Regions from separate parts of the Homo sapiens genome. Here region 1 is linked to region 2. Evidence: fine-mapped expression QTL. A gene starts in region 2. The other region holds a variant in brackets. All regions are shown on one strand. Distances are between the middles of the regions. Region 1 has its middle 18 kb from the start of VSX2. Region 2 holds the start of YLPM1 (YLP motif containing 1).

Region 1 (4,388 bases), 540 kb before region 2:
CCGTTTGGCGCCCTGGGCCTCCCTCTCCCCCACCTTCTGCTGCTCCTCATTTACATAAATTATCTCTCTCCAATTATCCATCCAGCTGTCCCAACGGTGATCTGTGAATGAATTAAAAATGGAATATAATTTAATAATGGCTGATTAGAAGGAGATTAGTTGTTATATAAAAATGAAAAGCCAAGAGCCAGCTAGTTGCCCTTAATCTGAGCCAATACCATCGTTATTCCGGAAAGGCCCCCTGGCCACCATCAGGCAAGGCAGACACGGGGACAAAGACTGGGGGAGTGCCAGGTGGGGCTAGACCACCCCAGAGAGAAGATAGGGCACTGGGAGGCTGGAATTTGCAGCATCTCTGAGCTGTGGGGCGTGGGCATCTCCTGTGGCTTCCTTCAAAACAGGTTTGGGTGGCTTCTGGGGTCCCTTTTTGCTCTAAATTCTAGTCATCCTTGAATCAAACCACTGGGCTTTCCCAAGGCAGCCAATGACTTACACCAGACCCTGCTAGGCATAGGATCTGGGGTTCAGGAGTTTCGTTCCTGCTCAGGCCCCGCCTCTAAGAACACATAGCAGTAGGGAACACAGACTTCCCCTGAGGGGGTCTACCTGTCTAGGACAGGTGGTCAGAGAGGGTCTCAAGCTTGGTTGGTCCAGACGGTCCACGGAGGATGGACTGGCTGAGACAAAGAAGGGTGAGTGTGCCCAGTGGGACCTCTGGGCCATCTGAACCTCAGGTTAATGACTAGATCTAGTGAAGGGGACTAGTGCCTCTCCTCCAGGAAGTCTTCCCTGATCTCCTGGGCTTTGGGGTGTCCCCAGTGTTTCTACGATGCCCTGTGTTTTCTCCATCAGTGCACTGAGCACTGCCGATGGGGTGTTCAGGCCCCCGTTTGTGAGCTCCATGGCTTCTTCATGTCTGTATCACCAGTGTTGGGCACACAGTGGTTGCTCTACCACATCATTGAACAAATAAAGACACCACCTCCAAAAAGCCTCTGTGATTGCCCTAGTGTAGGTTATGCGCTCCTTTCTTTGCTCCCCAAACACACTGTGATTATGCCTTTAAAAATAAGGCAAGTCATTGCTGTGGAGAATATAGAGAAGGACAAAATTTTAGGTAAAGGTGGATAGATGGAGACAGAACAAAGTGGTTAAGAGGAGCAGTTTGGAGTCAGACTGCCTGCGTATGCATCCCAGGTCCACCTCTTATTGCTGTATGACCTGGGTGGGGCATGTTACTAATTTCTCTGTGCCTCAGTTTCCTCATCTATACAATGGGTGTATATAATAATAGTACCTACTCCATAGGATTTTGTGAGAATTAAATGGAAGCACTTGTGGCTCTTATAATGCTTGTCACACCGAGAGCCTCTCATCTCTGTTGATGGTGCTGGCTGGACAGTGGGCCTGCGCAAAGCCATCCCAACATCCCTGGCTGCTACTTTTACACTGCAGGGCCCACAGGGACACAACACTGTGGCGGGACCAGAATGTTTCACCAACCTCGGGCCTTCCTGAAGAGGCTCACAGCTCATGACATGCCCATGAGAGGGGTCTGAGCCCCGGGGCTCAGGTCTGGGCAGCGAGGCCTGTGTGACTGACATAAGAGGATGTCTGCTAGGCCTGAGCTTGCAGAAAAGGAATGAAAGGGCCGGGTGGCCAGAGGAGTTGGGCATGCAGACCAGGAAGGGAAGGCTGAAGAGCTCTCTGCAGCCGCTGACTCAGGCCTCAGGGGCCATCATGGAGCAGACAGCCAAGGAAATATTGTCCACAGTACCAGAGGCTGGGAATGAACAGGGTGGGCACCAGAGGAGGCTGATTCTCTCAAAATGAGAGGCAGTACAGATTGTGCACAGCAAGTGTTTGTTGATTGGCTAACTGAGCTGCACCGGATTTTTCTAAACTTTCTTAGTCAAGAAAATCTTGATTTCTTATGTTTGTAGAAGGGCCTGGGAATCCGCACATTTGACAAGAGCCCCCGGTGAGTCTCAAGAACAGGAGGTTTTGACCCCAAACTCCATCTGTCCCTCAGTCACTGCTGCAGTGCCCTCTGGCAGTGGGGGCTGACTGGTGACCCCCACCTTGCCCACTACCCTCTGACACTCACTCCCATCTCCACAGCCTCAGCTTCAGTCACTCCCAGGACAATCTCCCTGGTGAAGCCTGAGCACATCGGTCCATATTGCAGCCGGGGGAGGCCTCCCAGACCAGCCCAGGCTGTGGGATAATTTGATATTCAAATCCTGGCAAAGACCTGCTTCAAATTGCTGCAAATTAAGCTGATTTTGCCCCTCTGAATGAGGGATTTGCTCCTGTGGATCAACCCTCTTCCCAGGACTTGATGAGGTCAGGATTAGAGACGGGGAGAAAAAGCCTGAGGCCGGAGGCCGGAGAGCTGGAGAGCTGAGGGGCGGGGG[G/C]AAGCCGAGACCCTGGAGTTAGTGAAGGTTCCCAGGGTCTCAAAAGGCAGCTCTACCCAGTGATAGCAGAGCCTCTGAGGCCCAAATGGGTCAGCCCCACTCCTCCATCCCCCCAGGAGAGCACAGCTCTGTACTGTTCCCAAAGCAGTTTGTGGACCTCATCCAATCTTTCCAAGCACCTGTGACCCAGGGCGGAACCGATCACCCCCATTTTACTGATGAAAGGGGAGATGAGGCTTTATTGGCAAAGACAATCTGGACTCAACCACTGCCACCGACTTGCTACGTGACCTTGAGCAAGTGACCTCTCTCTGAGCCTCCTTGTAAGGATGACTGGCGATGCATACACAGTGCCAGGCACATAGCAAGCCCTCCATAGCATGGGCCAAGTTCCTAGCCAAAGCCCTGAAGCTAGAAAATAGCTGAATGGAGAACGTGGGGCTCTCTGGACCTCAGGAAGAGTCAGTCCCCTGCCTTCACCTGGAGGTCTGTGCCTTCTCCCAACTGTACCCCTCCTGATAGGACCTCCCCCATCCCTGGCAGAACCTCATTTCCATCTGTTTTCTCAGGGCCTGTACTGTATATTGCAGCAATTTCAAATGGCACCATTAAAGATTTTATGCTGGAGACGTTAAAATTAAAAAGATCTATGTGCAAAGAGTCACAACGAATTTAATCAACTTGATTTAATAGAAAACAGCAAATGGAATTTATGATGCTCCAAAAGACAAGGGAATTTTTTTTTCAACAAAAAATAATAAAAAGCACTTTGTGGAAAACAGAAAGTGGAGTGGGGTGGGGGTGGGGGCTCCCCATCTGAGAGTTGATCAGAACTTAATCCGCCGTGAACAACCCCAGTCGGGGCTGTTTGCCCACTAATCCCAGCTGCCATTAAAATATTAAAGATAAATCTAATCGTCTCTTTATCCAAAATAAGCGACTTTTGTGTGGGGAGAAAACATCTAACCCTTTGGGAGGAGAATTAGTCCTAATGCATCAAATGGAATTCGGTCCAGGCAGGGGCAGAATAGGGTTTACAGGCAAATGAGATGGTAATAGAAATAAAACCCAGAATAACAAATTAAAAACCCTCATTTACACGAATTAAAACAGCTCACAAAAGAGCCGGAGGCCCAGCCCTGCCCTCCTCGGCCCCAGGCCCATTCCCCCCTCCCCTGGTCTCACCCACCCGCAGGCCCCAGAGGAGCCAAGGCCTGACCTCATCCTTGCAACTTCTGCCCCACACCCTCCTGGATACTTACAGAAAAATGCACCCAACATCCGCTCTCCAAGACCAGGCGCAGGCTGGGTTTCTGAAGGCTCTCACTGAGTCTTCATTCATCTCCCCATCTCTCCTGCACCAGCTTTGGGGTCAGAAAGAACTTCATGCTTGTCCCAGTGCCCTCCCCTACTATGTGAGGTCTTGATTTGTTTCTATTTATTTATTTAAAATATATTTTTTAGAGACAGGGCCTCACTCTGTTGCCCAGGTTGGAGTGCAGTGACTCAATCACAGCTCACTGAAGCCTCAAACTCCTGGGCTTAAGTGATCTTCCTGCCTCAACCTCCTGAGTAGCTGGCACTACAGGTGTGCACCACCATGCCTTTCTATTTTTTTTTTTTTTTGGTAGAGATGGGATCTTGCTATGTTGCCCAGGCTAGTCTCAAACTCCTGGGCTCAAGTGATCCACTGGCCTCAGCCTCCTAGAGTGCTGGGATTAGAGGCTAGAGGTGTAAGCGACCACGCCTGGCCCTAGTTTTGTTTCTTAAAACCCCTGAGCCCCTATTACTTGGGGAAAATGAGGATAATAACGGCTCCTGTGCTCACACAGCCCTTCTCCCCAGCCTTGACCCCTGCTGCTGCTCCCTGGCCTGGCTCCACAGAATTTGATGAGGCAGCAGCATATGGAAGGCCCAGCACTGTGTCTGATCCACGGGGACCGCTCGATCACAAGCTCTCACAGAAGTCTC
Region 2 (4,388 bases):
TATATATATATTTTTTTTTCTTTGTTTTTGAGACAGAGTCTTGCTCTGTTGACCAGGCTGCAGTGCAGTGGCATGATCTCAGCTCACTGCAACCTCCGCCCCCCGGGTTCAAGCAATTCTCCTGCCTCAGCCTCCTGAGTAGCTGGGATTACAGGCATGTGCCACCACACCCAGCTAATTTTTGTATTTTTAGTGGAGATGGGGTTTCATCATGTCGGTCAGGCTGCTCTTGAACTCCTGACCTCAAGTGATCCGCCTGCCTTGGCCTCCCAAGGCTGGGGTTACAGGTGTGAGCCACCATGCCCGGCCTAAATTTATACATTTTTCAAAAGAAAATGTCAGCCCAAAATATTAAAAACACAACTAACTAGGGTTTCTGGGTTGGGTTCCTGATCTGGGTGCCGATTTCACAAGTGTGATTGGCTTGTGAAAATTTACTATGCTGTCTACTTAAGACATGTGTTAAATAAAATTTATAGCAAGTTGGGCATTAGGCCCAACAGAACAAACCAAAATGGAGTTTATTGATGTTGCCATGCCAAAATTAAAATCTTTATCTGACCATTCAATAAACCAGGAGAGAGAGAAATAATAGCCAAGTCTGCAAACAGTCCATTTTTAGCCAGCATGATAAAGAAGTCCTCTCTGCTTTAACCTTATAAGAAAAGAAACTTTGAAACAAACAATCCACTTTTAGTTTTCTGTTTCTCTCTTTTTTTTCTTTTTTGAGATGGAGTCTCGCTCTGTCACCCAGGCTGGAGTGCAGTGGCACGATCTCAGCTCACTCCAACCTCTGCCTCCTGGGTTCAAGTGATTCTCCTGCCTCAGCCTCCTGAGTAGCTGAGATTACAGGTGAGCACCACCACGCCTGGATACTTTTTGTATTTTTAGTAGGCATGGGGTTTCACCATGTTGACCAGGCTGGTCTTGATCTCCTGACCTGGTGATCTGCCTGCCTCAGCCTCCCAAAAGTGTTGGGATTACAGGAGTGAGCCCCCGCGCCCTGCCTCTGCGTTTCTTTTCTGTCTATGAAATTATCCCGATTGTTCTGCTCATTGGAACACTGTTTCTGCTTTATAGAATGAGACGTTGCCCAATTCTAGAATAGCAGGTAAAAGTTAATTAAGATCTTTAAACTAAATTTGTTGTAATTTTGTCTTTTGACATGTAATTTTCTGTATATTCGTTATACTTCAATAAAAAGTTAAAAGAAACATAACTAAATTTCTATTTGAAAACAGAAGCTCTTCCTTTTGAAGGATGCCTTGCTGCTCCACTTTCCATTCACATTCACCTCCTGAGAGAGGTGAAGATCTGGGTTGCTAAGATGGAAGAAAGGTCAATTATTTGCATGTTACTCAAGTGATGCACTGACACAATATTCTCACAGTTCTCCCTCCCCCCGCCCCCCCCCACACACCCAAAAGAATTCAGTGTATTAGCTTTGCTTTTTAGTGATTCACTCAAGCTAAAGTAAGAGTTTATGTCTGGTATTACGTTGAGAGCTTTTGGAAGATTATCTTCCAGGTTGTCTTTAGACCATCTTTGTATCTGGTTTTTGCTCTCTTTGCTTTTGCTCTGAGATTCTGCAACACCGATTTATATGTGTTGAGACAGTCTAAAAAATTCCATTTCTCCCCTTCTACAATTCCTGCAGATGTTACTCACTATATGTCTGCAGGAATTGGTGTAATCTTACACTCTGCCTTGAAAACACCTTTCCATTCTTCACAGCTTTGTTCCCAGTTGAATTTCTGGGGAGAATTGAGTTAGGTCTATTCATTTAATTTGGGAGAAACTGACATCTTTACAATTTTTCCTCTTTTCACCCAGGATCATGGTAAGCCTCTCCATTATTTGAAGTCTAATTTCATCCTACTTGGATATGCTTCTTTATGACTCTGTAGCTTTCTACATATAAGTCCTACATCTTTCTTGTTAGAGTTTTTCCTAGTTGCTTTATGTTTTTTTGTTGTTGTTGCGATTGTTGCTATTGTGAATGGAACCTTTTTTTTTTTTCATTCAAAAATGAACCCGTGGAGCGATAGGATCTCTACCACCTCTTTCGGCTGTGAGACTCTATGGTTTTTCAGTTCTATGAGAACATTCTACTGGAGCCTACATTATCTGAACCCAAAGGAAGATGGCAACCACGAGTCGCCAAGTAAAGGACCGCTCTATCTCGCCTTTGTTCTCCTCTCGGTGGTTACTGCGCAGACGTAGTCGCCCAAGTCGCGTCCCCGCCTTCCCGGTCGCGGGCCCAGCTCGGGAGCGCCGGCGCACTGGCGCGCTCCGTTTACACGCTCCGGGGCCTGTAGGCGCCGCGAGTTCCGGCTGTCGCCGTCGCCGCCGCGGCTCCTGGAGGTCGGTTGCGACGAGTAACGGCGCCAGGACGAGCCCTGCGCCTTCTTTTTCGATATGTACCCGAATTGGGGCCGGTATGGCGGGAGCAGCCACTATCCGCCGCCACCGGTCCCACCGCCGCCGCCAGTGGCGCTTCCTGAGGCCTCGCCGGGGCCCGGGTACTCGAGCTCGACGACTCCCGCGGCCCCCTCCTCCTCGGGCTTCATGAGCTTCCGCGAACAGCACTTGGCGCAGCTCCAGCAGCTGCAGCAGATGCACCAGAAGCAAATGCAGTGCGTGCTTCAGCCCCACCACCTTCCTCCGCCCCCTCTGCCGCCCCCGCCAGTGATGCCGGGGGGCGGCTACGGAGACTGGCAGCCGCCACCGCCACCGATGCCCCCGCCACCCGGGCCGGCCCTCAGCTATCAGAAGCAGCAGCAGTACAAACACCAGATGCTCCACCACCAACGAGACGGGCCTCCTGGTTTGGTTCCAATGGAGCTGGAATCCCCCCCTGAATCTCCCCCTGTGCCGCCTGGGTCCTATATGCCCCCATCTCAGTCTTACATGCCCCCACCTCAGCCGCCACCCTCTTACTACCCCCCGACCTCATCTCAGCCCTACCTGCCTCCTGCTCAGCCGTCCCCTTCGCAGTCCCCACCTTCCCAATCCTACCTGGCGCCCACCCCTTCTTACTCATCCTCCTCCTCTTCCTCGCAATCCTATTTGAGCCATTCCCAGTCCTACTTGCCCTCTTCTCAGGCATCTCCTTCCCGCCCCTCCCAGGGCCATTCTAAATCCCAACTACTAGCTCCACCACCACCGTCCGCCCCCCCTGGAAATAAGACAACTGTCCAGCAAGAGCCTTTGGAGAGTGGGGCCAAAAACAAGAGTACTGAACAGCAGCAAGCCGCCCCTGAGCCAGATCCCTCTACGATGACTCCACAGGTAAGAAAGCATCTGCCTGAACCTCATCTTTCACCTAGAGGGCCCTGAATGAGCAGGCCTCAGGGCTTTAACCAGTGGTTAGTCTAATTCCAACACACAATGACTAGCTAACACTCCAAAGGATTCCGTAAGAGTCAGAGGGCTGACAGCTCAGCTTTTTAATTAGCTAGATGTGAATTACCAAAAAAACAGCGTTTGTAGATGTGTATGGATTACATACAGTGGTGGGGTGGCTCAAAAGTTACCTCTCAGATACATTCCTTGGTTTCTTTGACCATCCTCTTAGATTTTGTTGCTGTTGCAAATAGATTTTGTTGCAGAGGGTCTTGTTTTAAAATTGTATTTTAAACGAAAGTTTCCATTTGAGAGAAAGCATGAAAAAGAGGCCTCGCCAAGGGCTGACACTTGAATGTTTGTAAACTTTATGATTAGTTAGCTTCTTTTAAAAATATTACTTAGGGGCCAGGGATAGTTGTCAGCTTCCTGAATTAAGAGGTTTCAGAAAAAGGATGGAAATCTTGTCTTACCAGGAGCATCCTAATTATGCTTATAGGTACATATACAATACATAGATGAGTCCCGAGACCCTTTTGGGGATCGATTGGTCCATTTTAGGAATTGACCCAGACATCCTTTTCTCATATTATTTAAAGATTGTTTTAAGATAATGAGCAATTTTCTGCGTTTCATTGTCATTACCATTCACTCCAAAGAAACAGCCTTGCAATTTGGCCAACGTAAAAAAAGTTTGGTGATATCTTTTCATGAGAGAGTCAGCCATTCTTATCCCGCAGAACAGACAAATTGACAGGGTAACAGTAATAAACGAGTTCCCCCTTGAGAGAGGGAAGGTCAAACTAAAGCAGAATAAATCAATTGTTATGATTTCCTAAAGTAGACACTTTTTCAGCGATTACTAATTTACCTTAGATTCACTAAGGAAAAAAGAGAATCTTGTAATATAAACGCTCAGATTTACCTATAAAAGATTTCCAAAAGATAGGGATGCAGTATTATAATTTTACGGTGGTTTGGCATTAGAAATTAAGAACAGAAGCAAGTTGTTTTAAGAAATGATGCTTGGCACATCTTCTGGA

Evidence for each region.
Region 1: its variant is fine-mapped to the expression of YLPM1 in T cells (TOPMed, PIP 0.97).

Annotation. Positions count from the first base shown.
Region 1 is chr14:74,219,576-74,223,963 of GRCh38, forward strand. No RefSeq gene overlaps it. Among named protein-coding and RNA genes, the nearest start is that of VSX2, 18 kb to the right of the region's middle. The variant G/C (reference allele first, on the strand shown) is at 2,418.
Region 2 is chr14:74,761,072-74,765,459 of GRCh38, forward strand. It overlaps YLPM1 (YLP motif containing 1), which reads left to right and starts at 2,245. Exons shown (of 21, transcript NM_019589.3): 1 at 2,245-3,291. The coding sequence starts at 2,419. RefSeq lists an enhancer at 1,953-2,292.